Regions from separate parts of the Homo sapiens genome. Here all the other regions are linked to region 1. Evidence: fine-mapped expression QTL. A gene starts in region 1. Each other region holds a variant in brackets. All regions are shown on one strand. Distances are from middle to middle.

The links.
Region 2: its variant is fine-mapped to the expression of SAP25 in whole blood (TOPMed, PIP above 0.99).
Region 3: its variant is fine-mapped to the expression of SAP25 in whole blood (TOPMed, PIP above 0.99).
Region 4: its variant is fine-mapped to the expression of SAP25 in whole blood (TOPMed, PIP 0.97).

The regions. Positions count from the first base shown.
Region 1 is chr7:100,569,029-100,577,110 of GRCh38, forward strand. SAP25 (Sin3A associated protein 25) reads right to left here and starts at 4,872. Exons shown (of 6, transcript NM_001348680.2): 1 at 4,569-4,872; 2 at 4,269-4,372; 3 at 4,078-4,184; 4 at 3,832-3,985; 5 at 3,626-3,723; 6 at 3,200-3,543. The coding sequence starts at 4,714. The coding sequence ends at 3,259. LRCH4 (leucine rich repeats and calponin homology domain containing 4) reads right to left here. Exons shown (of 18, transcript NM_002319.5): 12 at 8,058-8,082; 13 at 7,874-7,977; 14 at 7,666-7,749; 15 at 7,210-7,295; 16 at 6,843-6,980; 17 at 6,677-6,754; 18 at 4,983-6,276. The coding sequence ends at 6,079. It also overlaps the pseudogene IRS3P. RefSeq lists enhancers at 120-791, 2,134-2,804, 5,736-6,290, 6,291-6,844 and a silencer at 1,051-1,250.
Region 2 is chr7:100,646,762-100,654,861 of GRCh38, forward strand. It overlaps ACTL6B (actin like 6B), which reads right to left. Exons shown (of 14, transcript NM_016188.5): 5 at 3,277-3,374; 6 at 1,968-2,062; 7 at 1,795-1,901; 8 at 683-772; 9 at 462-523; 10 at 210-324; 11 at 1-70. Among named protein-coding and RNA genes, the nearest start is that of ACTL6B, 5.6 kb to the right of the region's middle. RefSeq lists enhancers at 2,562-3,108, 3,109-3,653. The variant T/C (reference allele first, on the strand shown) is at 3,402.
Region 3 is chr7:100,304,171-100,312,270 of GRCh38, forward strand. SPDYE3 (speedy/RINGO cell cycle regulator family member E3) reads left to right here and starts at 3,532. Exons shown (of 11, transcript NM_001004351.5): 1 at 3,532-3,821; 2 at 4,804-5,022; 3 at 6,190-6,408; 4 at 7,580-7,798. The coding sequence starts at 3,716. The variant G/A (reference allele first, on the strand shown) is at 3,665.
Region 4 is chr7:100,549,621-100,557,720 of GRCh38, forward strand. AGFG2 (ArfGAP with FG repeats 2) reads left to right here. Exons shown (of 12, transcript NM_006076.5): 3 at 776-891; 4 at 3,727-3,880; 5 at 4,473-4,638; 6 at 5,990-6,115. Among named protein-coding and RNA genes, the nearest start is that of AGFG2, 14 kb to the left of the region's middle. The variant G/A (reference allele first, on the strand shown) is at 3,441.

The sequences.
Region 1 (8,082 bases):
CCCCATCCCCTTGGAGGGGGTCAGTGGTCCTTGGATCAGAACTGAGTGCAAAAATGTCCAGTCCCCAGCCCAATCGCAATTTTTTCAAGAAGCAAAGGGTACCTCCATGAGGAAGTCCACACGTCCATGGTCAGAGCCTTCAGGTGGTCCCGGGGTAGTATTTTTGGGCAGTGGTGGCAAGGAGGGGCCCAGAGCAATGGGGCAGCCCGAAGGGGTCTTCCTGAGAGATGGCCTCTTCCTCCGAGGTCTCCTTCAGTGGCCACTTGACTGGGTTCCAGCGGGTATGGTCTGTGCACAGGGACTACCCCCTGAGCTTACTTAGCCCAAGTCACCTCCTATCACCCCAAACTTTCAAGAAACTCAATCTCCAGCTCAGAAATAATCCAGCGCAGTGCTCAGTGGCGGTGGCTCCTTTGGTTACTTGGAAGGGCACAAAACCACTCCTGGATGGGAAGGGGGTACACACAGGAAGGACACCTACAGGCCGAGCGGGGCGTGGCAGGAGCCAGCAGGGTGCATGGAGGCCCCGTTCCAAAGCCCTCTAATCGCCAGCGCCACCACCGCTGCCACAAGTCCGATCACTGGCCTCACACCGAGGCTTTCTCGGTTGCCCCGACGACGTGTCCGGACCGCAGTCAGCTGATCGGTAGAGACGCCCCCACGCTCTCTGCCCCTATAAAGGCTCAGTCTTGGGGTCGAGGCCGCCTCTCTTGGACTTCCCTACTCAAACTCCAGTTCCTGGGCGACGTGAGGATTAGTCTCGTGGGGTGGGGGTTCCGGAGCGGTCGGCGGAGGGAGGGAGGTAGTGGGGAGCCCAGGCCAGGGGCAACAGTCACCGGGACACTCGCTGTGCGCAGAGTCCTTGCCCCAAACTTCCAGTCGGGAGCCCGGGAGAGACGCTGGGCATCAAGACGGGTGGCAGCCTGCCCGGCCGCTGCTCCCGGCCCGCCGAGTTCGCCACCTCACCCCCACCCCTGCTGGCCTCTCCCCGTGCTCAAGACACGAGACCCAGCCGTCTCTGCCTCTTCTGCAGCCACTTTATTGCCTTCGCCCCTGAATGAAGCCCGCAGGCGGCGGCCCCGGGGAGAGCCGGGAATGGCCGCCGTGCCCCTCAGCCAGCCGCTGCCCTGGGCCTGCCCTGCCGACGTGCGGTTCTGCGGCCACCTGCGCGCAGACCCGCCGCGTCCCGAGTGTTCCGAGAGCGAGCAGAAGTTTCGCGCGTGCCGAGCGCGGCTCCAGCGCAGCCTGAGCCTGGCGGGTGCGTGCACCACCAGCAAGTGCGCAGATGCGCGCCAGCACCACCTGATCGTCCTCTACACCCGCGACAGCAGCCTGCGCGTGGCGGCGGCAGGCGAGGCGGAGCAGCAGGCGTGATACAACACCCTGCTCGAGGAGCGCGGTGATGCCGGTGAGGCCCGAGCCCCGGGCTTCCGGGGGCCTCGGGGGCTTCTGGCTGTGGTTTCTCCGTGGCTCGCCCCTCCCCCAGGTCGCCGAAAGTTCAAACATTAAAGGGGCAGGTTTAGAGTTCTCCGGGCACAGGCCCGGCCCGGTGGCTCACGCCTATAATCCCATTAGTTTGGGAGGCCAACGCGGGCGTATCACCTGAGGTCAGGAGTTCGAGACCAGCCTGGCCAACATGGTGAAACCCCATCTCTACTAAAAATACAAAAATTAGCCGGGCGTGGTGGCACATGCCTGTAATCCCAGCTACTCAGGAGACTGAGGCAGGAGAATCGCTTGAACCGGGGAAGCGGAGGTTGCAGTGAGCCAAGATCAACCACTGCACTCCTAGGTAACAGAGCTAGACTCTGTCTCAAAAAAAAAAAAAAAAAAAAAAAAAAAAAAAAAAAAAAAGAGTTCTCCAGGCACAATGACGAGGCCCAGGTGCTCAGGGACCCTCCTATGAGCACCTTCAGACTCCCTGTTCCCCATCCCTGAGACCCCAGCTTCTGCGGACCAGTCAAGTGGCCTGAGCCGTCCAGGGTGTCTGGGAGAGGGGATCGAGCAAGCAGCCCTTAAGACCTTGGCGAGGCTGGGGACAGCAGCCTTCTACCCTAAGGGGCTGGGTGGGGGCTACATAACCAAGGGAGCAGGGAGTGACTATGAGCCCATTCCTACAAGTCTGGGTTCAGGAGCCTGGACACAGGCCCAGGAGTGCCCATCGCGATGTGGGGGCTGGCTGGGGATGGGTAGGGACTCAGCGCTGCTCCTGCCCCCCTCAGAGCTGGCTAGGGAGTGAAGTGTGCACCAAGTTATCGGCCCCAGAGAGCCTCGGAACCGGCACCGCCAGGCCAGAGCCCCTGACGAGCTGCCTCAGCTACGTCGATCTGGACCTGGTCCTTTCTCTGGGGGCACTTGGTGACGTCCCCAGGGCCCACACGCTCCGCCCACATAGCTATGCGGTGAGGAGACCTGAGACCCAGGCAGCTCTCTCCTGCTGACTGATGGGGGGGTGGTTGAGGGAGGGACTGGAGGGAATGGCATTGTAACGCCCCCGCCCTGCCTCCTAACTCCCCACCGTGTGAGGGGCTTTAAGGCCCAGATGCCACCTCGGACAAGTGACCTGCAGGGCAACAAGCTGGGGTCCTGCCCCCTGTGTCCCTTCCAGCTGTGGCACCTAAGTCTTGAGTAGAAGGTTCTCCAAGAAGTTGGGCTATTTTATGGGAGAAAATTCTAGAACCTATCCCCGCCCAAACCACCGAGACTACACACTTCTGGGCTTTCTCAGCTGAAACCCTGATCCTGTTTCTCTACAGAGTTCGTGCAAGAATCTCTAGAGTCTCAGGTAGGCTGCGGCAGGGCCACCTTTCTGCCAGTGGTGACATTTACATGGACCGGCACCCTCCCCCACACACCTGCAGTGCATTCTTTGTGTCTCCTCTGAGCCAGACAACTACCCCACCCAGCCCAGAACTGAACTCCTGGAGCCCCAGCACAAGAGGTGTGGGGCTAGTGTCCCCTAAAAGTGAGGTGCCCCTACTTACTCCCCCGCCTGCTTCCTATACATTCAGCCCTGCACTGCCATGCAGACCACCCACCCACTCATTAAAGGGGCTCTGCCCAGTCAGCCCAGAAATGCCTTAGGTCATGGATACCCTCGCCCTCCGCCTAACACAGCAGGGGGTGATCTGCAGTGAGACAGAAAGAGACCCCATTCCTGCCTCTATGACTTACTCTGCTCCCAGCCACACGGAGCCTGTTTTGCAAACCAACACTGTTTTATTGTCAACACAACCAGCCCACTCTGCCCTGAGAAGGCTATGGACAATGGGTGTCTGGGGTCTGTGGGAGAGAGAGGTCAGCACCCTGAGAACTGCTGGGGCTACCACAGGGGCTGGGTGGGTCAGAGGTATGGTCTGGGGGGCCAACCGCGGAGGAGCTGGGCCTAGGCTCCCCCTGGCTCATCTGCAGCAGGCCAGTGAGAGCGATCAGCTCCGGCCCGCTGAGCCAGGCAGTGGAGGGGCCCCGGGAGGGTGATGGGCGGGGGAGCACCCTGGCAGACATGATGGGGGGCGGCGGCAGCAGTTTCAGGGAGCCCATCATCTGAGGAGAGAGAATGGAATGTGTTTCCTGCCAGGCAAGCCTGGAGGCTGGGGTAAGGACAGGGAGGGGAAAGAGCTCTCACCTGCTGGGGGGCCTTGGACAGGTACAGGGGAACACGCTGCCCCCGGGGCAGCAGAGGGTCCGAGAGGAAGACATCTTCACAGCACACCACCGGGAACCCTAGGAGGAAACACCACTAGGGTGGCGGGCTGCGGGCTCCCACCCCTGGGCACTGGTTCCCAGAGGAGTTGGGGCAGCCTTGCGCCCCCGGGGGACCAAGGGAGGTACCTGCATCTGGGGGCGCCTGCTGTCCATTCCAGTGCCCTGTGGCAGGGGCCACGGGCCTGAGACCCCTGCCCGAGGCTGCTTCATACAGCGGCCAGAATGAGGGGTGACACAGCGTCCGGCCTGAGAACGAGGCTCCTGAGCTACAGTTGGCCCCCTAGGGTGAGGAGGACAGAGCACTGGAGCCTCAGGCCACCGCACAGCTCCCTGAGCACCCCAGCCAGTCCCACAGGTTTGCCCCCAACTCACCCACACCGGCCGAGGTCCTGCTTTGGCTTCATACTTGGGGTCCCAGGGCGCTAGTGGAGTCATCCTCGAGGGGGCCACCTCCCAGGCCACCTGGGGGGAACGGGGATCTGGGGGGACGCTTGGGGATTATAACAGGCTCACAGTCAGTGAGAGGCTCTTAGGGGTAGTAGAGGCAGCAGGGCCTGTCCTACCTGGGGCTCCGGGGGGCTGCTCAGTGGCCGGGCCTGGCAGGTGGTGGGGCAGCAGCAGCTGCTCTCTCCAGATCCAGGAAGGGCTACGGGATGGGGGCTGTGGGCTGGAGGGGCAGGGACTGAGGCTGCAGCCACACCGCCCCCACGCACCCTCCCCTGGAGCCCAAGGGTGCCTGGTGCAAGGGAGACCGAGGGACCCAATCTCCAGCAGGGACAATGGAGAAGCCTCCGTAGAGCGCGTGGTGAAGGCATGGAGGCCCCCAGTCGCTGTCCCCCCACGGCTCCGTCCGAGCCCCTCACCTGTCCCATGGGGGTGTCCCCAGCTCCCTGGGGGCGTCCGCTCCGGCGCTCCAGGGCTCGCCCTGGTCCTTGCCCGCCGGAAGGCCTGGTCCCTCGGGCGCCTCCTCCGGGCCCGCGCCCCACCGCGGCGGCGACCAGGGCAACATTCCGCGTTCCCGAGCGCAGGACGGTACCGCCGTGTCCCCGCCGCCCGGCCCGGCCCTCTCAGCCTCCCTCCGCGGCGCGGCGCGAACGTGCCCTCCTGGCGAACCCACCCCAGAGGCCTCGCGGCGACGCTGGCGCCCTGTGCGTCTCCCGGCCACGTGGCGCGTGCCCCCGCCGGGCTCCCGCGGGCGCCCCCTGGCGACTGGGCGGTGAATTCCGGAAACAGAGGCCCCCCCAACAACCCCGCGACGCACGTGCTCTCAGACACAGTTACACCTGAGGGCCACCCAGAGGGCTTCTGGCTTCTGTTTATTGCGGCTGACACGACACCTGCGACACCCGCGGTCCTTCCACCCAGACCCTCGACCCCAGAGGCAGCCAGGCCGGCAGGCCAAGGGTGCCCAGGCCCAGGCCACCCTCACCACGTGCTTCTCTGAGAGCGCGGAGCCCAGGCGCGTCTTCTGCTCCCGGGGTCCCGGGCGGGGTGGGCCCTGTGCCCCCACCTTCACCCCTAAGGCCGGTCCAGCAGGGCGTGGACGACAGCAGCGATGTAGGGGAGGCCCCTTCCCGGGGCCCCCTCCTCTTCCAGGATGTGGTGGGGCTGGCACAGTGACTCCTGGGGGAAGGGGCCGGGTTAGCTTCCCCACGGTGCCCCCTGCGGCTTCCGGCCTGTGGCAGGGGGTCGGGGGCAGACCCGAGCATCACCGTGCGCTCGGGGCTCGGCGACAAATGAGACGCAAGAAAGCTGTCAGCGATAACAGAAGGGAGGTGACACGGGGGGTTGGCGGACGCTCCGGGAGCATGAGAGGCCGGCATCTCAGGAGGGAGATGCTGGTGGGCACAGAGCCATGGCCACAGCCACCAACACGCGGAGCAGACGCGCGCGCGCGCGCACACACACACACACAGGCAGGGCGGCCACGGTCTGTACAGTTTATACACAGAGATAGGGACCCGGCCTGGGCCCCGAACCCCTACAAATATAGATCCTCTCTACAAAATAGAGATAATTTAGCCCCCCCATAGCAGCTGTTGGGGGGGGAAGGGGAGGGCACAGGAGGAAGGGGGAGACTCCAGCTCCTGCCACCCCTCACGGGGTACAGAGGGCAGGGGCAGGGCCGGCGGGGACATGAAGGCACCGTCAGCACTGAGAGGTGGGGACTCGTGGGGCTACTGGAGGGAGGCCAGAGGCTGGGGGCCCAGGGTCTGGGGGCACCAGAGTGGGGCCTCTGAGGTCAGTGTCTGTGAAGGGGGTGCACTAGTGTCTTTGGTTGGGGCTGAAGGCACCGCAGGTGGGGTCGGGTGGAGCAGGGACCTTATAAATAGAGAGGAAGGGAAAGGGGTGAGGGAGGGCCGATTTTGGGGCCTAGGAACCCAGGAGCCGAGTGTAGGTGACATAGAGCAGCAGCATGAGGACCACGTAGAAGACGACGAAGCCGCCCAGACCAGAGGGGGGCCAGAGGGGCGGTAGGGCCTTGCCCCCCACCCGCTTCACGGCCTCCAGCGCGGTCCGCAGCCCCCGGGCAGTGCCCTGGAGGAGATCCGAGGGCGAGCACAGGTCAGCCTGGGGGAGAGGAGAGCAGGTGGACAAGGACAAGGGACAGACGTCAGCAGCAGCAGCAGGACAGTCCCTCCCACCCCTGCCCTCACGTGCTGGGGCCAGAACCACGCCCACATGCTGACGTGCTGGGCAGGGGGAGTGCAGTGCAGGAGGAGTGCAGGGCAGGGCATGTGCAGGACAGGTGACATGCAGGACAAGATGGGGCCTGCAGGGCAGGGGATGTGTAGGACAGGTGACATGCAGGGCAGGGGGCATGCAGGGCAGGGGGCATGCTGGGCAGGGCAGGGGCAGCCTGTGCCTTCATCTGAGAGCAGACATCCGCTGCAAATGGAAGCCCACCATCCATGCCACATGCTCGGCTGAGTCCGGCATGCCACCACTCTTTAGAAAGCAGCCCCCATACCTCAGGCACCCCCATTTTTCGACAGGCTTCTAGAAAACTCTCCACATTCTTCCGAGCCTTGAGGGCACTGAGTTTTGGCTGGGGTGGGTGAAAGAAGAAAATGTGGTAAGGGAGAGGCCACAGGCGCCCCGGCCCATCCCCCACCTCTTCCCCAGCCCCAACTGACCACAGCAGGGGAGGGCACATGGATGAAGGGCACGGAGCGCGGCCGTAGCTGGTTGGCCAGCTGGCACAGGATGACCCCACTGGCCAGAGCCTCGGCCAGGTCCTCAGGCAGGGGCCGCTGCAGCCGGGACTCAAGGACCTGGCAGTGTAGACCACATAGAGCAGGGGTCAGGGAAGGAGAGGCGTCTGGGAGGCAGGGAGAGTGGGGGGCTCAGGGCTAGCAGGGAACTTGTGCCTGTCCCTTCCTGTCCTCAGGGGAGGTGCCAGAGTGGGCACAGAGGATGTGGAGGGAGGCTGGTCCCAAGGACAGCAACACAAGGAGGTGCCCGGCCCAGGCCCCTGCCCACGCAGCTCCCGCCTCTGCTCACCTGGCGCAGCTGAGTCATTAAGTCCTTCTCATCTGGAACCTGGGGGTACCGCCGAGGTCTCAGGACAGAGTCTGGTGAGGAAGGGCCTAGGAGAAAAAGGGGGGCATGGGGCTGCCTCCACTGCTCACCACTGACTCTGTAGCTGGGTCCCAGTGGCCTGGCACCTACACCTCCTGCCTCTCTGCTTGTGGGATTTTTTTTTATTTCATGGAGATGGGGTCTCGCTATGTTGCCCAGGCTGGTCTTGAATTCCTGGGCTCAAGCGATCCTCCCACCTGGGCCTCCTAAAGTGCTGCGATTACAGGTGTGAGCCACCACACCCGGCTTGCTTGTGGGATTTTCAACGCAAAGGTACAAAAGGTACAACAGACCCAGAGGGCTCCCAGGGCAGAAGGGTGATGTAGCCGTTGGTGCTGGCAAGCACTGGGTCAGCACTGGGGAGGGCAGGACACCCACCTGAGCCACTCTGAGAGGAGGAACGGAAGAGGAAGCTGTTTGGTCTCTGAATGGAGCCAAGTGGCCGTGGAGCAGGTGCTGTCGCTGGGGCCGGAACCAGGGACACAGCGACAGGGGCAGGTGAGACAGGCATCCCCTCTGTGTCCCTCTCTCCCAACCAGCCCTCACCAACACAGGCCCCATCCTCCTCCCAAAATCCCTGTCCCACCTGGTCCAGCTATGGGAAGGGGCTCTTGGGAGGCAGGGGCAGGGGCGGGGGCTCCCTGCCCCGCTGCAGCCCCTGCTTGGGAGGCACTGGACTTAGGCGAGCCGCTGAGGAGAGACAGAAGGGAATTAGAGGGATGATGGTCATAGGAAGAGGAGTGGGGAGGGGATGCTGGCAGGAAACCTACTTGTGCATGGCTTGAGTGGACACGG
Region 2 (8,100 bases), 78 kb after region 1:
CAATGTCACACATGCCGATGCTGGTGGTCACCACGTGGCCCACACCCAACATGGTGTTCCCCGACAGGCCCTGCAGAGAGAGGTGACTGGGGCTGTGGGCTCTCTCCCCCTTCCCCCCAGACCCCTGCAATCCTTCCCAGCCTCCCCCACGCCCCAGGATCCAGGGACTGCAGCCAGCACCCACCCCAGTCCTCGCCACACAGCCAAACCTTGACGTTCGAGGGATCAAACAGGCCCTCAGGGATGCGGAGTCGCTCGGCGCCGTAGTCTGTATTGTAGCCATTGGGCATCTCGTAGTGCACTGTGGGCATTTGTGCAGCCACCCTACCCAGAAGGGAGCAGGACTCTGCCTGGGGTGCTCAAGAAGGATCAGTGCGTGGGCAGCACCAGAGCCCCCCAGCCCACCCCAAGAGTGCCGGTTCTGCCCTCTCTCCCACCCCAAAGCCCTGAGCCACACTCACTGTTCATCGTAGGGGGAGTCTGAGACCTGCAGCACGGAGGCCTGGAAGTCCTGGATCACCTCCTGAAATCCCAGCGGAGGTGGTGAGGGCCTGCCTTCCCCGTGAGCAGCACCCCCTGCCCCGCTCCCCCTCCCTGCTCCCCCTCCCATGCGGGGCCTCTGTCCCGCCCCCGATTCATGGCAGGGGAGGGGGGTTTCAGGTGGCCCTCTCCAGAGGCTCACATTACACATGTAGTTATGCCAGGACTTGGAGACCTGGGGTAGCTTCTCCTTCTTCTTCCAGTTTGGGGGGGCACCCTCCCGGACAGGCTCCTGTGGGGGCACAGTGTAGGAACACCCTTTCCTAGCCCACCTGACCCCCACCCCCACCTTCCTGGCACTGTTCCCAGCTCTGCAGCTACCTGGCGCTGCAGGCTCTGCTGTGCTGCCTGCAAGAGGGGTTTCTCACCCTTCCCTGATGGAGAGGAGAGAGAATGGGGCATGCCTCTCTCTCCATGTGTGCCTTTCATGCGGTGGGTGCAGCTGATCTGGAGAACACCAGGAATACAGCAGTGACAGAACCTCAAGGGAATGGCCTCCTAGGGGGTCATGATCCATGTGAGGGCACGGAATGGAGCTAAGCACACAGTGTCACTTCATACTCACAGCACCCTGGCTACTGCCTACTGCCGTTCCACTTTACATAAGACAAACCTGAGGCCCAGGGAGCTTTGATATCATGCTGTTGGTCACACAGCTCTTTTTTTTTTTTTTTTTCAGATGGAGTCTCACTCGGTCGCCCAGGCTGGAGTGCAGTGGCGCGATCTCGGCTCACTGCAACCTCTGCCTCCGGGGTTCAGGTGATTCTCCAGTCTCAGCCTCCCAAGTAGCTGGGACTACAGGCATGCACCACCATGCTTGGCTAGTTCTTGCAGTTTTAGTAGAGACGTGGCTTCACCATGTTGCCCAGGCTGGTCTCGAAGTGAGCTCAAAGCGATCTGCCTGCCTCAGCCTCCCGAAGTGCTGGGATTACAGGTGTGAGCCACCATGCCTGACCGGTCCTGCAGCTCTTGCACGGCAGAGGCAGAACTTGAACCTGGGTCTATATTGGACCCTAGAACCCACCACACTGGCCCTCACACATCCTGCTGTCTGCCAGCTGGTTTCATGACCTCAGCATATCCCTCAGCCTGTCTGGATTTCGGATGCCTCGATTATAAAAGGAGGAACTGGAGCCAGGACCCACTGGGGAGCCTGCTGCTCTCTGCTCTGATATCTCATGTGTCAGAGGGTTGACGGCCATGGGGCGAGTGGCCAGGACTCTAGTGGCAGCTCCATGTCCCCAGAGGCCCCACCTTGGCTGCGATCATGTAAGGTGGGATGATGTCAATGGCCATCTCCTGGAACAGCTCCCGGCACTGCATGGAGATGAAGTCCCCTGCCAGAGGGGACTTGACGATGCCTAGAAGGAAGGCACTGTCAGGACCTGGTCCTCCTGGAGCACCCCCACCCCCTGCCGAAGCCCCACCTTGCTGCAGAACGTAGCCGTCATGTACTGGAATGGCCGTGGTGTGGGTGGCTCCACTGTCCAGCACGAGGCCAGTGGACCGCCCGTTTGCAAAGCTGGCATCGGATGGGTAAGTCAAAGAGACAGCAGCAGCAAGTGAGGGGCCTGGGCCCAGATCTTGTCTGGTCACTCTCTGCTCTACCGGGGTCCAGCCCATCCCCAGTCTGCAAATCTCTCCCCCTGGTGATGACTCATCTCCTGGAGAAAGGCTCTGAGACCCCAGTTACTTCTTTTTTTTTTTTTTTGAGATGGAGTCTTGCTGTCTCCCAGGCTGGAGTGCAGTGGCGCAATCTCAGCTCACTGCAAGCTCCGCCTCCCGGGTTCATGCCATTCTCCTGCCTCAGCCTCCCGAGTAGCTGGGACTACAGGTGCCTGCCACCACGCCCGGCCAATTTTTCGTATTTTTAGTAGAGATGGGATTTCACCGTGTTAGCCAGGATGGTCTCGATCTCCTGACCTCGTGATCTGCCCGCCTCGGCCTCCCAAAGTGCCGGGATTACAGGCATGAGCCACCACACCCGGCGACCCCAGTTACTTCTTTAGTTATTTTTTTTTTTTTGAAACTGAGTTTCGTTTTGTCGCCCAGGCTGGAATGCAATAGCTCACTGCAACCTCTGCCTCCTGGGTTCAAGAGATTCTCCTGCCTCAGCCTCCCAAGTAGCTGGGACTACAGGTGCCCACCACTATGCCTGGCTAATTTTTCCATTTTTAGTAGACACGGGCTTTTGCCATGTTGGCCGGACTGGTCTCTAACTCCTGACCTCAAGTGATCTGCCCGCCTTGGCCTCCCAAAATGCTGGGATTACAGGCGTGAGCCACCGCGCCTGGCCAGCCCCTTTATTTTTGGTTGTGTCCTACAGATTCCCTGAAATTAGGGTCGCTATCACCCCAGTGCATAGCACAGGGTTCAATGCAAGGCAGATCCTAAAAACAGTCAGTGTTGAAGGAGTTCTTGGGAAGGGACTGCCGCAGTGTTCTACACGTCTCCCTCCTCTGTCCAGTTCCAGCCCCTACTCTCTCCCGGGCCCAGCTCACTGTCTGCTCAGCCTGATCCGGGGAACCGAAAGGGGCCGCTGATCTGGCCACCCCAGAGTCGGAGGTGCTCAGTCCACTGGGCCTTCTGCACTAGTGGGGCAGAGGGAGGTGTCTGCCCATTGGGACACTGATCTTCAGAGAACCAGGCCTGACCCTCCAGCTCATCACAGCTGAGCTCAGCACAGGCCCCACCCCAGCCCTCCACCCAGTCAGAGCAGCTCAGTCCAGAGGATACGCGGTGAGCACAGCCGTCTTGCATAAGAAGAAGGCAGGAATGTTGTACTGCTCGAACATCAGCTCTGTCAGCTTCTCCCGCTTGGCCCGTGTGTTCCACTGTGGAGAAAGTGCAGAGGGGGAGGA[T/C]TCAGGAAGGGAGAGGCACAGACCCACATCCACGCACACGCAACCCACTCACTCACACATACACTCACGGTCACACACACACATCCAAACACTTGCACACACATACACAACCTAAACACTCACACATACACTCACGGTCATACACACATGCATTCACTTGCACACACACACACATACACTCAAACACACACACATACACTCACATTCACAGACACACATAAACACACACATGCATTCACACTATACATACACTCACGGTCACACATGCAAACACACTCACAAACACACGGTCAAACACATATATACTCACATTCACACACAAACTCACACACACACATACACATATATTCACACTCACAGTCACACACACATGCATTTAAAACATTTGCACAGGCCAGACAGGGTGGCTTACGCCTATAATCCCAGCACTTTGGGAGGCCGAGGCAGGAGGATTGCTTGAACCCAGGAGTTCGAAACTAGCCTGGACAACATAGTGAGATGCTGTCTCATTAAAAAAAAAATTTAAAGTAAGGAGCTTGTGGGAATTAAAACTACATGAACAGAAATGAAAAACTCAATAGAAGGATTGGAACATAAAGTGGAGGGAATATCTTGGAAACCAAAGGAAAAAGGTAAAGAGATGGAAAATATAAGAGAAAAGGGAATTAAATTAGGGGACCAATTCAGGGGGCAACAAAATCCAATAACAGAAAATCCCAAGAGAGAAAATGGAGAGAAATAAATAATTAAATAAATAATTCTTTTTCACTGAATTGAAAGACATATGTTTTCAGAATGAAGAGACATACTAAGTGCCTAGAGCCATGAATGAAAATACACCACACTGAGGATAAAGTAAAAATTCTATAAACTTTCAGAAAGAAAAACATTACATCAGAGGATCAGAAATCAGATGGTTTCATCCTTCTAAATGGCAACGATATATGCTGGAAGAAGGACAATGGAAAAGTGCCTTCAAGATTCTGAAGAATAATGATTTCTAACCTGGCATGGGATACCTAGCTAAGCTATCAACTCAAGGTGAGACACACAAAAGTCTCAAAAAATATACTTCCCATGACCTTATTTTAAATTTTTTTTTTAGATGCTGGGCGCGGTGGCTCATGCCTGTAATCCCAGCGCTTTGGGAGGCCAAGGCGGGCAGATCACCTGAGGTCAGGAGTTTGAGACCAGCCTGGCCAACATGGTGAAACCCCGTCTCTACTAAAAATACAAAAATTAGCCAGGTGTGATGGGAGGTGCCTGTAATCCCAGCTACTTGGGATGCTGAGGCAGGAGAATCCTTGAACCCGGGAAGCGGAGGTTGCAGTGAGCCAAGATCACGCCATTGCACTCCAGCCTGGGGGACAAGAGTGACACTTCATCTCAAAAAAAAAAAAAAGTTTTTTTTTAGATTATTATTTAATTAATTATTTTTTTAAATGGAGTCTCACTCTGTCGCCCAGGCTGGAGTTCAGTGGCATGATCTAGGCTGACTGCAATCTCTGCCTCCTGGGTACAAGCAATTCTCTTGCCTCAGCCTTCCGAGTAGCTGGTACTACAAGCATGCACCACCATGGCCAGCTAATTTTTATATTTTTGGTAGAGATAAGGTATCAGTATATTGCCCAGGCTGGTCTCAAACTCCTGGACTCAAGGCCTCCCAAAGTGCTGGGATTACAGGAGTGAGCCACTGTCTCTGGCCTCTCATGACCTTTCTAAGGCAGTTACTGAAGGACCTGCTCCATGAAAACAAAGGAATAAGTCAAGAAAAGGAGTCAAGTACAGGAAACAGGACTTCTAACCAGGACAGAGGCAAAAGGATTCTACAAGATGATGGTGAAGGAAGATGCCAGCATGACAGGTCTGTCCCCTGGCAGAGGGCTACTAGTGCAAACTGGACCAGGTCAGTGGGCTCCTGAAGAAATTTCTTCAAGAAATGAAATTGATGAGAGGCCAGGTGTGGTGGCTCACGCCTGTAATCCCAGCACTTTGGGAGGCCGAGGCCGGCGGATCGCGAGGTCAGGAGATGGAGACCATCCTGGCTAACACGGTGAAACCCCGCCTCTACTAAAAATACAAAAAATTAGCCGGGCGTGGTGGTGGGTGCCTATAGTCCCAGCTACTTGGGAGGCCGAGGCAGGAGAATGGTGTGAGTCCCAGCTACTTGGGAGGCTGAGGCAGGAGAAATGGAGCTTTCAGTGAGCCGAGATCGCACCACTGCACTCCAGCCTGGGCAACAGAGTGAGACTCCATCTCAAAAAAAAAAAAAAAAATACAAAAAATTAGTCGGATGTGGTGGTGGGCACCTGTAGTCCCAGCTACTCGGGAGGCTGAGGCAGGAGAACCCAGGAGGTGGAGCTTGCAGTGAGCCGAGATCGCGCCATGGCACTCCAGCCTGGGCAACAGAGCAAGACTATGTCTCAAAAAAAAAAAAAAAAAGAAATTGATAAAATATCTAATGGAATTGACGTCTTGACAAAAGATACAATTGATGAATGATTTAGGGTTCACACTGTTAAGTAGATAGAAAACCAGACCAAATATAATCAAACACAGGGCTGGGATGGTGGCTTACGCCTGTAATCCCAGCACTTTGGGAGGCCAAGGTCGGTGGATCACGAGGTCAAGAGATCGAGACCATCCCGGCCAACATGGTGAAACCCCGTCTCTACTAAAAATACAAAAATTAGCTGGGCGTGGTGGCACGCACCTGTAGTCCCAGCTACTCAGGAGGCTGAGGCAGGAGAATCACTTGAACCCGGGAGGCGGAGCTTGCAGTGAGCTGAGATCGCACCACTGCACTCCAGCCTGGTGACAGAGCAAAACTCCGTCTCAAAAAAAAAAAAAAAAAAAAAAAAAAAAAAAAAAAAAAAAAAATTGAACACATTTTTTTTCCAGTTCTAGGAAAACAAAAAGTTGCACAAGAAAGGAAAGGTGATCATGGTGTATTGCCTGTCTCAGGCCTGATTAGCATACATAGTAATAGGAGTGTAAATATTGGGCTGAGCACAGTGACTCATGCCTGTAATCCCAGCACTTTGTTAGCTGAAGTAGAAGGATCGCTTAAGCACAGGAGTTTGAAGCCAGCCTGGGCAATATGATGAGACCCCATCTCTGCAAAAGATTCTCTTAAAATTATTTCTAATTTAAAAAGAATGTAAATACTGAATACTGATTTCTTTTAAAGTCTAAAATACAACTGGGCTGGGTGTGGTGGATCTCGCCTGTAATCCCAGCCTTTTGGGAGGCCGAGGCGGGCAGATTGCTTGAGCCCAGGAATTCAAGACCAGCCTGGACAACATGATGAAACCCTGTCTCTAAAAAAAATTTAAAAATCAGCTGGGCATGGTGGCTTATGCCTGTAGTTCCAGCTACTCTGGAGACTGAAATGAGAGGATCACTTGAGCCCAGGAGACCAAGGCTGAAGAATTGTGCCACTGCAATCCAACCTGGGTGACAAACTGAGCAGACCCCCTGTTTTTGAGGCAAAGTCTCAAAAACAAACAACAAACAAAACCCCAAACAACAACAACAACAACAACAAAACCCACTGTACTTAAAGGAGGGTGATAAGAAATACGTGTGGCATAGGCTGGGGAGGAAAAGAGAGCTAAGCGATCATTTTCTAAAGTGGAAAATTCAGCGATAATACCTAAAACTAAACACTCCACAGGCAGCAATTTAAGTGTAGTATTAGAGATATGGAAGAAAATACCCCCAACATTAGCTAAAAAGGAGAAAAACAGTTGCTTTTATAAAGAGGAATTTATAAGGAGGTGGGTAAGAACATTTTTTTAAATGAGGTTTTAAATTTTTTTTTTTTTTGAGACAGAGTCTCGCTCTGTTGCCCAGGCTGGAGTGCAGTGGTGCGATCTCAGCTCACTGCAAGCTCCGCCTCCCGGGTTCACGCCATTCTCCTGCCTCAGCCTCCCGAGTAGCTGGGACTACAGGTGCCCGCCACCATGCCTGGCTAATTTTTTGTATTTTTAGTAGAGATGGGGTTTCACCGTGTTATCCAGGATGGTCTTGATCTCTTGACCTCGTGATCCACCCGCCTCGGCCTCCCAAAGTGCTGGGATTACAGGCGTGAGCCACCACACCCGGCAAAAAATTTTTAATTTTTATTGTTTTAATAAAAGAGACGGGTCTTGCCATATTGCCTAGGGTGGTCTCAAACTCCTGGGCTCAAGTGATCCTCCTGCCTTGGCTTCCCAAAGTGTTGGGATTACAGGTGTGAGCCAACATCCCCAGCTCACCAAAGTTGACCATAATAATAATAATAATAATAATAATAATAATAATAATAAGTGAAAAGGTCAAAAAAGGACTTGGAGGCTGGGCGTGGTGCCTCATGCCTGTAATCCCAACACTTTGGGAGGCCAAGGCGGGTGGATCACCTGAGGTCAGGAGTTCGAGACCAGCCTGGCCAACAAGGCGAAACCCCCTGTCTACTAAAAATACAAAAAATTAGCCAGGCGTGGTGGCGGGTGCCTGTAATCCCAGATACTCAGGAGGCTGAGGCAGGAGATTCCTTTGATGTCGGGAGGCAGAGGCTGAGATCTCACCATTGCACTCCAGCCTGGGTGACGGAGTGAGACTGTGTCAAAAAAAAAAAATTTAAAAAGGACTTGGAGACAGAGAAGGGCAGCAGAGTGCATAGAGCAAGAAGAGAGCAGGAGGGATGGAGACTTAGCCA
Region 3 (8,100 bases), 260 kb before region 1:
TGCACCCCAGCCAAGGCAACAGAGACCTTGTCTCTAAAAAACAAAAACAGGCCAGGTGCAGTGTCTTATGCCTGTATTCCCAGCACTTTGACAGGCAGAGGCAGGTGGATCATTTGAAGTCAGGTGTTCAAGATCAGCCTGGCAAACATGACGAAACCCTAAAATACAAAAATTAGCCGGGAGTGGTGGTGGGTGCCTGTAATCTCAGCTACTCGGGAGGCTGAGGCAGGAGAATCACTTGAACCTGGGAGGCAGAGGTTGCAGTGAGCCGAGATGGAGCCACTGCACTGCAGCCTGGGTGACAAGAGCGAAACTCTGTCTCAAAATATTAGGAAAAAAAAAGAGAGAGAGCCTCTTTTCCATCTCCCCGCCACAGAGTTGTCTTCAGTAATTTCATTCCCTTTTTTCCTGAGGATTCACTGGGTTTCTGGGTCCCAGAGGGGAAGTTCTCTTCAAGGTACAGAAACCACGACTCCGCAGAGAACCGCAGAGACGGCGGCATGACCAGACCACGGACAGGTGTGGAGAAGCTGCTGGGCTAAAACTTGGGCTGAACTTCCGCTGCAGGTCGACTTATTCCCATCAGCACCAAAGCCACTGGAGGGGGTCATCCACTAGCAAATGAAGTGGGGGCACGGATTGGAGGCTGTTTCAGAAGGTCCCACTGAGCCACGGACTCAAGGCCTGGCCACAGCCCTCCCAAGCAAGGCCCAGATCATATTTCACCACGCTCAGAAAACCTTGTCAGCTCATTTCAGTCCACGGTGACTTTGCTTTCTTTAGGATCTCTCTTGCACTGTCCAACTCAGAGAATTTCAAATCTGAATGGATTCCAATGATGGAGCTAAATCAGGCCTCACCTCAGTTTTTTAATTACAATCAATAGGGCTGGGTCCCAGCATCTGTGTCTTAATGTTCCTCCATGTGATCCTCATGCTGAAAGGCTGGTATTTGAAAATCCCTTTTTTTGGGGAGTGAAGGGTTTTTTTTAGAGACAGGCCTCACTCTGATGCCCAGCCTGGAATGCAGTGGTAGATCACAGCTCACTGCAGCCTCGAACTCCTGGCCGCAAGAAATCCTCCCACCTTAGCCAACCAAAGTGTTGGGATTGCAGGAGTGACCACTGTGTCCAGCCAGGAAAGCCCTTCTGTTTCACTTGAATGATATTTCTGCCGCAGACCTACAGCCATTGTTGTATTAAACGGCATCATTGCAGGAAAAGAAAAGGTGAGAGGTGACTGTTTTGCTTTTTTCTGAACATATCAGACCAAACCTGGGCTGTCTGGCACTTTTTTTTTTTTTTTGAGTCGGAGTCTCACTCTGTCGCCCAGGCTGGAGTGTAGTGTCGTGATCTCGGCTCACTGGAACCTCCACCATCCCGGTTCAAGTGATTCTCCTGCCTCAGCCCCGCAAGTAGCTGGAATTACAGAAGTGCACTCCCACACCCAGCTCATTGTTTCTGTATTTTTACAGAAAAACAGACAGGTTTCACCATGTTGGCCAGGCTGATCTCAACCTCCTCACCTCTGGTTATCTGTCGGCATCGGCTTCCAAAAGTGCTGGGATTACAAGTGTGAGCCACCGCGCCTGGTTTGCCCATTTTTTGACAATGTATCAACATCATCTAAGATGGGCACTGCCTCAGTGTAGTGTGTCTAGACAAGGTGGCCGGAACAGAGAGGAATATGCATACCAGGCTTAAAGACGGGTTAAATCAGAGCTTTTCATTCCACAAAAGAGCAATTTTAATGAGGTCAGAACATGGATGTTCTAATATTTGAAAGCCTGTTAACTAGGAGAGAGAGAGAGTAAAGTGATTTGTTGTAGGAGGACACACCCAGCTCTGACGGTTTAAAGCGTCATGAATGCAAATTTGAACTCCAGAAAAGCAGAGCTTCCTAACAATGGGACTTCCACAGCAATGGGATTTCCTTCCACATTCAGTTTGTGCCTTTCCCATGAGCGAGAGACTCCTAGGAGAGCCGCAGCCCGTTAGGAAGCCATGTGGGAACTCATCCACAGGTTCTTTTTGTTTGTTTTTTTTTTTTTTTTGAGATGTAGTTTTGCTCTTGTTGCCCAGGCTGGAGTGCAATGGTGCGACCTTGGCTCACTGCAACCTCCGCCTCCCAAGTTTAAGCCATTCTGCTGCCCCCGCCTCCTGAGTGGCTGGGATTACAGGCACCCACCACCATGCCTGACTAATTTTTTGTATTTTTAGAAGAGATGGGGTTTCACCATGTTGGCCAGGCTGCTCTTAAACTCCTGACCTCAAGCGATCCACCTGCTATGGCCTCCCAAAGCGCTGGGATTACAGGCGTGAGCCACTGTGCCTGGCCGGAACCCACAGGTTCTTTGGATGGTCTCTGAATGTCATGAAACTCTTTTATATTTAATTAAAAAAATTTTTTTGACACAAGGTCTTGCTGTGTTGCCCAGACTGGAGTGCGGTGTCACGATCACAGCTCACTGCAGCCCCTAACTCCTAGGCTCAAGCAATCCTCCTGCCACCTCAGTCTCTCAAGTTGTTGGAACACAGGTGCCAGCCACGACACCTGGCTAATTTTGTTCTGTTTTGTTTTGTTTTGTTTGAGATGGGGTCTTGCTATGTTGCCTACACTGGTCTTGAACTGCTGGCCTCAGGCAGTCTTCCTCCCTTGGCCACCCAAAGAGATGGGATTGCAAGCATGAGCCACTGTGCACAGCTGAGATTTTTCGACTTAGTCTTTTTGTACACCCAGTATCTTATAGAATATCCATAATATAGATTCATAAATAAACCATTTCCTTCAATAGTATAAATAAATAAACCACTGCTATAAATGGTGGAATTTCTGAGTTAAGAGCAATACATATGATACAAAACTTGATATATAGAGTTTCTTAGCCAAACTGGAGGGGCTGGCTTTAGGTGATCCGTGGACTCCCTGAAACTGGGGACACCATTGGAAATATGTGTGAGCTCATGGGCAGTTTCCGATGATTTCCAGTCCTCAAAATATCTCTTGGACTCAAAGATGCCTTAGGGCAGAGGACACGTTACACCCAGTACAGAATCTCGGACAGTGAATATCAGTAAACATTCGGCAGAAAAGCTCTGCCAAATTGAGTGCTCTGATGTGACTTTTTCATCAAGTCAATGTTCCTGGGATCTCTTGTACATGATACTCTCACTCTTATAAGGTTTCATCGTTTCTGCTTACCCTAGTTTTCTTTCCCATCCTGATCCCTCTCCCACCAGACTGGACTCTGAAACGGGCATGTACAGAGAAGAGGAGACCCCAACACGCTTCAAGCTTTGAGTGGAGAGGACACAGCCTCTGCTGGGACAGGGAACAGAGGGATGCGGAGACCCTGAAGATGCTTTTGGACAGTGGTCTGAGGTTGGGACAGTGGCAGGAGATACCATTCACCCAGGATCTCCAGGACAAGAGATCAGCCTGGCAGTTACATGTGTTTTTGTTCAAACTGGTTGCCAGGTTGGAATGACCTATGACATCAGAGATTCCGACCTTCCTGATTGGAAGGACCGGACTCTGTCGGCGCCTGGCAGTTCAGGTGAACAACAGTAACTTCTCAGAGCTGTTCTCCACTCCTGACTTCTCCCAGCCTCGAGAATTGATAACACACTCTTCTGGATCCCAGCAGTGTCCAGAAGAAGACCAAG[G/A]ACAGAACAGAGACTAGCTTCGGTGAGATTGGACAGATTTTGGGAAAGATCATGACGAGCCATCAACCGCAGCCCCAGGAAGAGCAGAGCCCCCAGCGGAGCACCTCAGGGTACCCCCTCCAGGAGGTGGTGGATGATGAAGTGTCGGGACCATCAGGTGAGGGGACTGGAGGAAGAAGAGGTGGCATAGGATTGACTAAGACGAAGGAAGGGGGCCAGGTGCGGTAGCTCACCCCTGTAACACCAACACTTTGGGAGGCCGAGGCGGGCAGATCACCTGAGGTCAGCAGTTCAAGACCAGCCTGGCCAACATGGTGAAACCCCATCTCTACTAAAAGTACAAAAATTAGCCAGGCGGTAGTGGTGTGTGCCTATAATCCCAGCTACTCGGGAGGCTGAGACAGGAGAATCGCTTGAGCCTGGGAGGAAGAGGGTGCAGTGAGCCGAGATCGTGCTACTGCACTCCAGTCTGGGTGAGAGAGTGAGACGCTGTCTCAAAAAAAAAAAAAAAAAAAGAAGAAGAAAAAAAAGAAGGGTCAGAGGTCAGGAAGGAGAACCTGGGGAGGGTGTGTGGGAAGAATGGAGAAATTCAGGCTGGGTGCAGTGGCTCACACCTGTAATCCCAGCACTTTGGGAAGCCAAGGCAGGCGGATCACGTGAGGCCAAGAGTTTGAGACCAGCCTGGCCAACATGGCGAAACCCCGTCTCTACTAAAAGTACAAAATTGAGCTGGGCATTATGGCAGGCACCTGTAATCCCAGCTACCTGAGAGGCTGAGGCAGGAGAATAACTGGAATCCGGGAGATGGATGTTGCAGTGAGCTGAGATTGTACCACTACACTCCAGCCTGGGTGACAAAGCAAGATTCTGTCTCGAAACAAAAAAAAAAAAAGAGGGCCTCAGAGAGCCAGGGACCAGGGAACGATATGACGCAGTGTTCTGAGGACAGAGAGAGGGAAGAATGGGGAGGGGAAGGAGTGGCACATGGGGTTGAGCAGAGGAGAAAGTCAGAAAGGTGGCTTGGAGAAGCCAGCAGTCTGAGAGGCTGGGGAGGATGGAGAATGGTTTGGGGTTTGGGGTCGGGGTCTAACGTGATCAGTTGCAGAAGCATTACACGGTGGCCTGGTTTCTTTACTCAGCCCCTGGGGTAGATCCCAGCCCCCCACGTAGGTCCCTTGGCTGCAAAAGGAAGAGGGAGTGTTTGGATGAATCTGATGATGAGCCAGAGAAGGAGCTCGCCCCTGAGCCTGAGGAGACCTGGGTGGCGGAGACGCTGTGTGGCCTCAAGATGAAGGCGAAGCGACGGCGAGTGTCGCTCGTGCTCCCTGAGTACTACGAGGCCTTCAACAGGCTGCTTGGTAGGAGGACACCCCAGAGAGCACCTCCAATCCTGTTCTTTCTAAAAAGAGGAAACTTCCAATAACCACACTTTTCCAATGGGAAAAATATGCCCCAGTGGGTGAGCTCTCCATGCGGGAGGACTCTGAAGTGATCACTCATGAGGGACACTTAGGAGACAACAGAGGATTAGGTAGACTTGATAAAGGTCGGTGCTTGGGATAAGAAAGCTTGGTTTTGGGCCAGGCGCTGTGGCTCCCGCCTGAGATCCCAGCACGTTGGGAGGCTGAGGCAAGAGGATTGCTTGAACTCAGGACTTCGAGGCTGCAGTGAGCTATGACTGCACCACTGCACTCCAGCCTGAGTGACAGAGCAAAACTCTGCGTCAAAAGAAAAACCAAGGCTGGGCACAGTAGCTCATGCCTGTAGTTCCAGCTACTCGGGAGGCTGAGACAGGAGAATCGCTTGAGCCTGGGAGGAAGAGGGTGCAGTGAGCCGAGATCGTGCTACTGCACTCCAGTCTGGGTGAGAGAGTGAGACGCTGTCTCAAAAAAAAAAAAAAAAAAGAAGAAAAAAAAGAAGGGTCAGAGGTCAGGAAGGAGAACCTGGGGAGGGTGTGTGGGAAGAATGGAGAAATTCAGGCTGGGTGCAGTGGCTCACACCTGTAATCCCAGCACTTTGGGAAGCCAAGGCAGGTGGATCACGTGAGGCCAGGAGTTTGAGACCAGCCTGGCCAACATGGTGAAACCCCCGTCTCTACTAAAAGTACAAAATTGAGCTGGGCATTATGGCAGGCACCTGTAATCCCAGCTACCTGAGAGGCTGAGGCAGGAGAATAACTGGAATCCGGGAGATAGATGTTGCAGTCAGCTGAGATTGCACCACTACACTCCAGCCTGGGTGACAAAGCAAGATTCTGTCTCGAAACAGAAAAAAAAAAGAGGGCCTCAGAGAGCCAGGGACCAGGGAACGATATGACGCAGTGTTCTGAGGACAGAGAGAGGGAAGAATGGGGAGGGGAAGGAGTGGCACATGGGGTTGAGCAGAGGAGAAAGTCAGAAAGGTGGCTTGGAGAAGCCAGCAGTCTGAGAGGCTGGGGAGGATGGAGAGTGGTTTGGGGTTTGGGGTCGGGGTCTAACGTGATCAGTTGCAGAAGCATTACACGGTGGCCTGGTTTCTTTACTCAGCCCCTGGGGTAGATCCCAGCCCCCCACGTAGGTCCCTTGGCTGCAAAAGGAAGAGGGAGTGTTTGGATGAATCTGATGATGAGCCAGAGAAGGAGCTCGCCCCTGAGCCTGAGGAGACCTGGGTGGCGGAGACGCTGTGTGGCCTCAAGATGAAGGCGAAGCGACGGCGAGTGTCGCTCGTGCTCCCTGAGTACTACGAGGCCTTCAACAGGCTGCTTGGTAGGAGGACACCCCAGAGAGCACCTCCAATCCTGTTCTTTCTAAAAAGAGGAAACTTCCAATAACCACACTTTTCCAATGGGAAAAATATGCCCCAGTGGGTGAGCTCTCCATGCGGGAGGACTCTGAAGTGATCACTCATGAGGGACACTTAGGAGACAACAGAGGATTAGGTAGACTTGATAAAGGTCGGTGCTTGGGATAAGAAAGCTTGGTTTTGGGCCAGGCGCTGTGGCTCCCGCCTGAGATCCCAGCACGTTGGGAGGCTGAGGCAAGAGGATTGCTTGAACTCAGGACTTTGAGGCTGCAGTGAGCTATGACTGCACCACTGCACTCCAGCCTGGGTGACAGAGCAAAACTCTGCGTCAAAAGAAAAACCAAGGCTGGGCACAGTAGCTCATGCCTGTAGTTCCAGCTACTCGGGAGGCTGAGACAGGAGAATCGCTTGAGCCTGGGAGGAAGAGGGTGCAGTGAGCCGAGATCGTGCTACTGCACTCCAGTCTGGGTGAGAGAGTGAGACGCTGTCTCAAAAAAAAAAAAAAAAAAAGAAGAAGAAAAAAAAGAAGGGTCAGAGGTCAGGAAGGAGAACCTGGGGAGGGTGTGTGGGAAGAATGGAGAAATTCAGGCTGGGTGCAGTGGCTCACACCTGTAATCCCAGCACTTTGGGAAGCCAAGGCAGGCGGATCACGTGAGGCCAGGAGTTTGAGACCAGCCTGGCCAACATGGTGAAACCCCCGTCTCTACTAAAAGTACAAAATTGAGCTGGGCATTATGGCAGGCACCTGTAATCCCAGCTACCTGAGAGGCTGAGGCAGGAGAATAACTGGAATCCGGGAGATAGATGTTGCAGTCAGCTGAGATTGCACCACTACACTCCAGCCTGGGTGACAAAGCAAGATTCTGTCTCGAAACAAAAAAAAAAAAGAGGGCCTCAGAGAGCCAGGGACCAGGGAAGGATATGACGCAGTGTTCTGAGGACAGAGAGAGGGAAGAATGGGGAGGGGAAGGAGTGGCACATGGGGTTGAGCAGAGGAGAAAGTCAGAAAGGTGGCTTGGAGAAGCCAGCAGTCTGAGAGGCTGGGGAGGATGGAGAATGGTTTGGGGTTTGGGGTCGGGGTCTAACGTGATCAGTTGCAGAAGCATTACACGGTGGCCTGGTTTCTTTACTCAGCCCCTGGGGTAGATCCCAGCCCCCCACGTAGGTCCCTTGGCTGCAAAAGGAAGAGGGAGTGTTTGGATGAATCTGATGATGAGCCAGAGAAGGAGCTCGCCCCTGAGCCTGAGGAGACCTGGGTGGCAGAGACGCTGTGTGGCCTCAAGATGAAGGCGAAGCGACGGCGAGTGTCGCTCGTGCTCCCTGAGTACTACGAGGCCTTCAACAGGCTGCTTGGTAGGAGGACACCCCAGAGAGCACCTCCAATCCTGTTCTTTCTAAAAAGAGGAAACTTCCAATAACCACACTTTTCCAATGGGAAAAATATGCCCCAGTGGGTGAGCTCTCCATGCGGGAGGACTCTGAAGTGATCACTCATGAGGGACACTTAGGAGTCAACAGAGGATTAGGTAGACTTGATAAAGGTCGGTGCTTGGGATAAGAAAGCTTGGTTTTGGGCCAGGCGCTGTGGCTCCCGCCTGAGATCCCAGCACGTTGGGAGGCTGAGGCAAGAGGATTGCTTGAACTCAGGACTTTGA
Region 4 (8,100 bases), 19 kb before region 1:
TATCTGGTTTGTAGGTAGACCCAGATCCTAGCACTGTGTCCATGCTCAATATTTGTTTATTTATTTATTTATTTATTTATTTATCAGAGACAAGCTCTTGCTTGCTCTGTCACCCAGGCTGGAGCTTAATGGTGCAATCTTGGCTCACTGCAACCTCAACCTCCTGGGCTCAAACGATCCTCCCACCTCAGCCTCCCAAGTAGCTCGAACTATAGGCACATGCCACCATGCTCCACTAATTTTTGTATTTTTTTAGAGAGTGGGTTTCGCTGTGTTGCCCAGACTGCTCTTGAACTCCCGTACTCAAGTGATCCACCCACCTCGGCCTTTCAAAGTGCTGAGATTACAGGTGTGAGCCACCACATCCAGCCAATATGTATTTACTGATGAATAAATAGGAAGTGGTGGCTGGGCGCGGTGGCTCATGCCTGTAATCCCAGCAGTTTGGGTAGCTGAGGTGGGCAGATAACGAGGTCAAGAGATCGAGGCCATCCTGGCCAACATGGTGAAACCTCATCTCTATTAAAAGTACAAAAATTAGCTGGGCGTGGTGGCGCATGCCTATAGTCTCAGCTACTTGGGAGACTGAGGCAGGAGAATTGCTTGAACCCCGGAGGTGGAGGTTGCAGTGAGCTGAGATCGTGCCACTGCACTCCAGCCCGGCGACAGAGCGAGACTCCGTCTCAAAAAAAAAAAAAAAAAAAAAAAAAGGAAGTGGTATTTTTTGTATTTCCTGCTTTCTGCTCCCACTCCTCTGACACCTTCATTCTTTTAGGTTTGCCGGAAGATTTGGTTGGGTCTGTTTGATGCTCGGACATCTTTAGTACCAGATTCCAGGGATCCTCAGAAAGTGAAGGAGTTTCTCCAGGAAAAATATGAGAAGAAGAGATGGTAAGGAGTAGGAAAGAGGTTGCTATGGAAACGTGTTCAAGACATTCTTCATCTGACAGTCCAGTTTCTAGAGTTGAATTTGGCCTTCTCACAAAAGACTAGACTTGGGTCGATTCTGTTCCACTCACATTCAGTTACGGCTAAAATAAATCTACATGAAAGGACAACTTGTTCTCAGTCACTAACCCTGCAGATTTTATGTCCTCTCTTTTGGAGAGATAGTAGACTGATTGGAGTCGGGAGGTAGGCCTGTGGGTGTTCATTTTTATAGCTCAGCTGATCTTATGTATGGGGAGAGATGGCTGGAAGCACACATCCTATAGTTTTATTCCTTTAACCCATCATTTTATGATTTTTTTTTTTTTTTGAGACAAGGTCTCACTCTGTTGCCCAGGCTAGAGTGCAGTGCCACAGTCACAGCTTACTGCAGTCTCAGCTTCTTGGAGCTCAGGTGATCCTCCTACCTCATCCTCCCCAGTAACTGGGACTACAGGTGTGTGCCACCATGCCTGGCTAATTTATATATATATATATATATATATATATATATATATATTTCTTTTTTTTTTTTTTTTTGAGACAGAGTCTCGCTCTGTCACCCAGGCTGGAGTGCAGTGGCGTGATCTCGGCTCACTCCAAGTTCCACCTCCCAGGTTCACGCCATTCTCCTGTCTCAGCCTCCCGAGTAGGTGGGACTACAGGCGCCCGCCACCACACCCAGCTAATTTTTTGTATTTTTAGTAGAGACGGAGTTTCACCGTGTTAGCCAGGATGGTCTCGATCTCCTGACCTCGTGATCCGCCCACCTTGGCTCCCAAAGTGCTGGGATTACAGGCGTGAGCCACTGCGCCCGGCCTTAATTTTTATATTTTTTGTAGAAATGAGGTTTCACCACGTTGCCCAGGCTGGTCTGAAACTCCTGGGCTCAAATGATCTGCCTGCCTTGGCCTCGCAAAGTGCTGGGATTACAGGCGTGAGCCACCGTGCCCGGCCTTGTTTCATGATTTATATGTACAGTCAGCCCTCTGTATCTGTAGATTCTGCAACCATGGATCCAATCAACCTCACATCAAAAATATTTGGGAAAATAGGCCAGGCAAGGTGGCTCACGCCTATAATCCCAGCACTTTGGGAGGCTGAGGTGGGCAGACCACTTGAGGTCAGGAGTTCGAGACTAGCCTGGCCAACATGGTGAAACCCCGTCCCTACTAAAAATACAAAAAAAATTAGCTGGGTGTGGGGGTGGACACTTGTAATCCCAGCTACTCTGGAGGCTGAGGCAGGAAAATTGCTTGAACCCAGGAGGCGGAGGTTGCAGTGAGCTGAGATCATGCCACTGTACTCCAGCCTGGGCAAAGAGAGAGAGACTGTCTCAAAAAAAAAAAAAAAAAAAAAAAAAAGTAGGGAACACAAAAAATAACAATACAACAATAAAAAATAATACAAATAAGGCCAGGTGTGGTGGCTCATGCCTGTAATCCCAGCACTTTGGGAGACCGAGGCGGGTGGATCACAGGGTCAGGACTAGTTCAAGACTAGCCTGGCCAAGATGGTGAAACCCCGTCTCTACTAAAAATACAAAAAATTAGCCAGGCATGGTCATGGGCACCTGTAATCCGAGCTACTCAGGAGGCTGAGGCAGAGAACTGCTTGAACCCGGGAGGCAGTGGTTGCAGTCAGCTGAGATCGTGCCACTGTACTCTAGCCTGGGTGACAGAGTGAAACTCCGTCTCAAAAAAAAAATAATAATACAAATAAAAAGCAATACAATATAGCAACTATTGCATGGCATTTACATTGTATTAGGTATTATAAGTAACCTAGAGATGATTTAAAGTATATTGGAGGATATACATATTTGATGCAAATACTTCACCATATTATATAAGAGACTTGAGTGTCCCGTCCTCTGATTATGGAATTGTCAGGGGGATCCTGGAACCAGTTCCCTGAGGATACCATGGGACAACTATATTTTGTCTTCCTGATGAAGGAAACAGCATCTCCATTCTCCCTTACCTTTCCTCTCCCCTGGTATCACTTCTTGTGGGATCTCTGGGGTGTGTACATGTTGGGAGGTAACTGTGAGGTAGAGAAGAGAATGCAGAGAACAAAGAGATTGATGTGGATAAGACCACACTGTGGAGTCCCTCCTAGGGATGTCCTCAGGATTAAGCTGACACTTACAGAGTAGGGGCCACATACACTGTAGTGGAAGGGAATTGTCCCGGCAGGAGCTGGCAGGATGGAAGTGTGGATTGTGAGCACCTAGAGGATGAGGCGGCAGGCAGCTTTTCTATGGAGCTGAGAAGAAGGAGTCTGAAGAAACACCCAGGAAATAAAAGAGGGGGACCTTTGCCAGGTGTGGTGGCTCATGCCTGTAATCCCAGAACTTTGGAGGCTAAGGCAGGAGGATCACCTGAGGCCAAGAGGTTGAGACCACCCTGGGCAACATAGTGAGACCTCTTCTCTACAAATAATTAAAAAATTAGCCAGGCATGGTAGCATGTACTTGTTTGTGGTCCCAGCTACTTGGGAGGCTGAGGCAG[G/A]AGAATCACTTGAGCCTAGGTAGTTAAGGCTGTGTTGAGCCAACATTGCCCCACTGCACTCCACCCTGGGCAACAGCGAGACCCTGTCTCAAAAAAACCAAAAGATGTTCAAGGGGATGCTCAAGATAGGCAGAACTTTGCTAAGTTGCTCGGTTCCCTTCAAAAAAGGGAATCAGTAGAGAAAAATGAGCATAGATTTTGACTCCTGTGTCTTCCCAAACATCTCAGCTGAGCGTGGTCCAAAGTTTTATCCCTCTCTTTACAGCCTAACTATTCTTTCTCAAAGGTATGTCCCCCCAGACCAAGTCAAGGGGCCCACTTATACCAAAGGCAGTGCCTCCACCCCTGTGCAGGGCTCCATCCCAGAAGGGAAGCCCCTTCGGACACTTCTGGGTGATCCTGCACCGTCTCTCTCAGTTGCTGCCTCCACCTCGAGCCAGGTAACTCTCAGATCTGCTCGTCATGTTTCTTTTGAGATTTGGGAGACAGGAGTGTCAGTTTCCTGAATCAGATTCCCCGGACTTAGCAGACAACAGTGCAGGAGCTGTGAGTTGGGTCTCGGCTCTGCTGTTAACCTGTATCTTGTATTTGTCACTTCTGGACCTCATATCTTTTGGAAGTCAGAACCTAACAGGAAGTGGTATTTAGGAAAGTCAGAATATCAGCTCCAAACCTGAGCATTCCATCAAAGAAACACAGAAGGGGCTGGAATATGGTGTCCAATACCTGGGAAGGTTGAGGAGTAACAGCCCTGGGGGCAGTATTGGGCAGTATTCCTGTATATCTCAGGGTTACCTTGGCTCATGTGCTGTAAAATGTGTGGTTCTTGGAGCAGGTGTACTGAGAAGATGAGGATGATATGAGCTCTGAGAGGGGCTAAGGCAGCTCCTGCCCAGGAATCTTCTAGGTTGAGGGCAGTTACTCACTGTCTTCTCTCTCTACCTGCCTATCTGAGGGCAACCTGGGGAGCCAGAGGAGGGCCTGGGGCATGTCTGGGATTCTAAGGGCTGTATGCATTCCTTCTCCTCCAAGCCCGTCAGTCAGTCTCACGCTCGGACATCCCAGGCCCGGAGCACTCAGCCACCTCCCCACTCCTCTGTCAAAAAAGCCAGTACTGACCTGCTGGCTGACATCGGTGGAGACCCCTTTGCTGCACCCCAGATGGCACCAGCTTTTGCTGCATTCCCTGCCTTTGGGGGTAAGTGGGTTTTGGGATGGGACCCTCCCTACAGCGTATATGCTTACAACATGAGAGATCCAGTCCCTGGAGGTAACCATGGCTCTAGATCTTCTCATGCAAACAAATGTGAGGGTCACTCTGAAGCAGTGAGGCTGGGAGGACTGGGGTCAAATAAGTACAGCCAGGATTATGTTTGGGGGTTTGATCCTAAAACATTATAGTTGAGGGCTCCTAGCACTTCCTTTTAGAACACTGGAAATAGCCTTTTTTATTATTTTCTGTCTCTGTTAAAATGGGAGGAGGGGGATTATCATGTGTTCCAGTTCACCAAAGATTATTCTTCCCCCAAATCAGCAATAGCCAGTAGAGGGTTCAGCAGCATAGAATCTGTTTTCCCTTTTTAAAAATTTTCAAGCCAGACACAGTGGCTCACACCTGTAATCCTAGCATTTGAGAGGCTGAGGTGGGCAGATCACCTGAGGTCAGGAGTTCAAGACCAGTCTGGCCAACATGGTGAAACCTCATCTCTACTAAAAAGAAAAAAAAAATTAGCCAAGTGTGGTGGCATGTGCCTGTAGTCCCAGCTACTTGGGAGGCTAAGGCAGGAGAATTGCTTGAACCTAGGAGGTGGAGGTTGCAGTGAATCACAATTGCATCACTGGACTCCAGCCTAGGTGACAGAGTGAGACTCCGTCTCAAAAAAAAAAAAAAAAAAAAAAAAATTCAAGCTCCTTCCTCCATGAAAAAAAATTTTCATGCTCCAAACTAGGCCCTGACAAAAATGTTAATGCCTCATGGAGTAAGGACAGAAGAGGGCAGGGAGTGAACCTGGAGGCCCTGGGTGCCCCTGTTCCCCTGTGTGGGTCTGGCTCTTGGCCCCAGGCCCCACCCATTTCCCTCTGAAGAGAACCCTGTGGAAAGGCAGATGTCCCATAAGAGTGGCCTTTGGCCTTTAGAATTAGTAGCTATATTACATGGATAGGCATATACATTTTCTTTTCTTTTTCTGTTGTGTGTGTGTGGTTTTTTTTTTTTTTTTTTTTTTTTTTTTGAGTCAGAGTCTCATTCTGTCACCCAGGCTAGAGTAGAGTGGCACAATCTCGGCTCACTGCTAGCTCCACCTCCCAGGTTTAAGCAATTCTCATGCCTCAGCCTCCAAGGTAGCTGGGATTACAGGCATGTACCACCACGCCCAGCTAATTTTTATATTTTTAGTAGAGACAGATTTCACCATGTTGACCAGGCTGGTCTTGAACTTCTGACCTCAAGTGATCTGCCCACCTCGGCCTCCCAAAGTGCTGGAATTACAGGCGTGAGCTACCACACCCGACAATTTTCTATATAACCTTTATGTTTCTTCCACCTACAGGCCAGACACCTTCCCAAGGAGGCTTTGCCAACTTTGATGCCTTTAGCAGTGGCCCCAGCTCTTCTGTGTTTGGAAGCCTCCCTCCAGCTGGTCAAGCCTCGTTCCAGGCCCAGCCAACTCCTGCAGGTAAACTCTGCCCCACTGGCTTCCTTTCTCTTCCAACCGTGTCCATTTGTTCATGTCTATAAATCACCATTCATATCCTCACTATCCTAAAGAACTGCTCAAAGCAGCAAAGCACAAAGAGAAGCAGCTCCAGGAGAGGATGAGCGTGTCTGACACATTCTTGTCAGGGAGAGGGGGCTCTACTGTTCTGCTTTTTCATGAAAGGAAAATGACTAAGATTGCAGCAGGAGCTGTGTGGGTTATACACTAGGAAACTTTTCACTAGGAAGTATGGAAGACCTGAGTCCTAGAAAAATTGAAAATGGACGTGACTTTTTCTCTAAGGTGCTCTTGTCTGCATAGTACGCTGTCCCAAAGGGTCAAGGGTCAAGGTAGTCTCCAGAAGTCCTCATCCATCCCTCTAAGACCAAAGGCCTGTAAACTCTATGTTGCTGCCAGCCACAATGGCTCACGCCTGCAATCCTAACACTTTGGGAGGCCGAGGTGGGAGGATCGCTTGAGCCCAGGAGTTTGAGGCTGTAGTGAGTGATTATTGTGCCATTGCACTCCAGTCTGGGTGACAGAGTGAGACCCCATCTCAAAACAAACGAACGAACAAACAAAACCAAATAAACTATGTTATTTAGCCATTGCAAGAGACTCTTCAGGCCTTCTTAAAGCATTCTGCTCCTTCCTAAGCTCTACACATTGAGTCTTCATAGCCTTTGGGTGCCTTCTGCCATTGGACATCCTGGACACATGGGAGGGCAGCTGCAGTGCTCGCCGTCAGGCTCAGATGTCTGGGGAAAAGCCAGTGACATACACTCTTTCTTTCTCCCTTCCTCTACCCACCCTTCTCTTCTCCACCCTCACTGCCAGCCAGTCGGATGCTAACTGAAAGTTACAGCTTTGGTAAGTTATTATCCCCACCCCAGAGCCTACCCAAGTGCCTCTGATCATAGAGTTTTGAGGGCTGGAAGGAACCCTTAAAATTTGGCCATTTGACAGATAAGGCAGTTAAGCAATTTCCCTAGTCATGCAGGCCACAGAGCGACCAAGCTGAGACCAGAGCCCAGACTTCTTGACTCATGCTCTGCCCACAGCCTTCTCACTGTGCCACTGTGAGCTGATTAGCTGCTTTTGTTTTTATTTTATCGTTTTGGAGGGCTATAAGAAGAAACATTTTATATTGATAAAAGTTGGCTGGGCGTGGTGGCTCACATCTGTGATGCCAGCACTTTGGGAGGCCCAGGTGGGCAGATCACCTGAGGTCAGGAGTTTGACATAAGCCTGGCCAACATGGTGAAACACCGTCTCTACTCAAAATACAAAAATTAGCTGGGCATGGTGGCAGGCACCTGTAATCCCAGCTACTCAGGGGACTGAGGCAGGAGAATCACTTGAACCTGGGAGACAGAGGCTGCAGCGAGCCGAGATCCTGCCACTGCACTCCAGCCTGAGTGACAGAGTAAGACTCTTGTCTCAAAAAAAAAAAAAAAAGTTAAAATTCACAAAGAGGTTCTCAAAATCATGTACTTAAAATAACTGACCGCATACCCATGAGATTCACGAAGCAAAAACTATTAGACACAATCAGAATTTAATAAGCCAAAGGACTAGGAGACTATAATATGCTTTCCCACATGACTAATAGACAAGTAAGAAATAAACTATAGGAAACAAAATCTCCATAAATTCTAACAAAGACAAATCACATAGGTCACATTTTGGTTTTTGTTGTTGTTTTGTTGTTTGTGTGTTTTTTGAGACAGAGTCTTACTCTGCTGCCCAGGCTGGAGTGCAATGGCGTGATCTCATTCAAGCGATTCTCCTGCCTCAGCCTCCTGAGTAGCAGGATTACAGGCGCATGCCACCATGCCCGGCTAATTTTTGTATTTTTAGTAGAGACGGGGTTTCACCATGTTGGCTAGGCCGGTCTCAATCTCCTGACCTCAAGTGATCCGCCTGCCTTGGCCTCCCAAAGTTCTGGGATTATAGGCATGGGC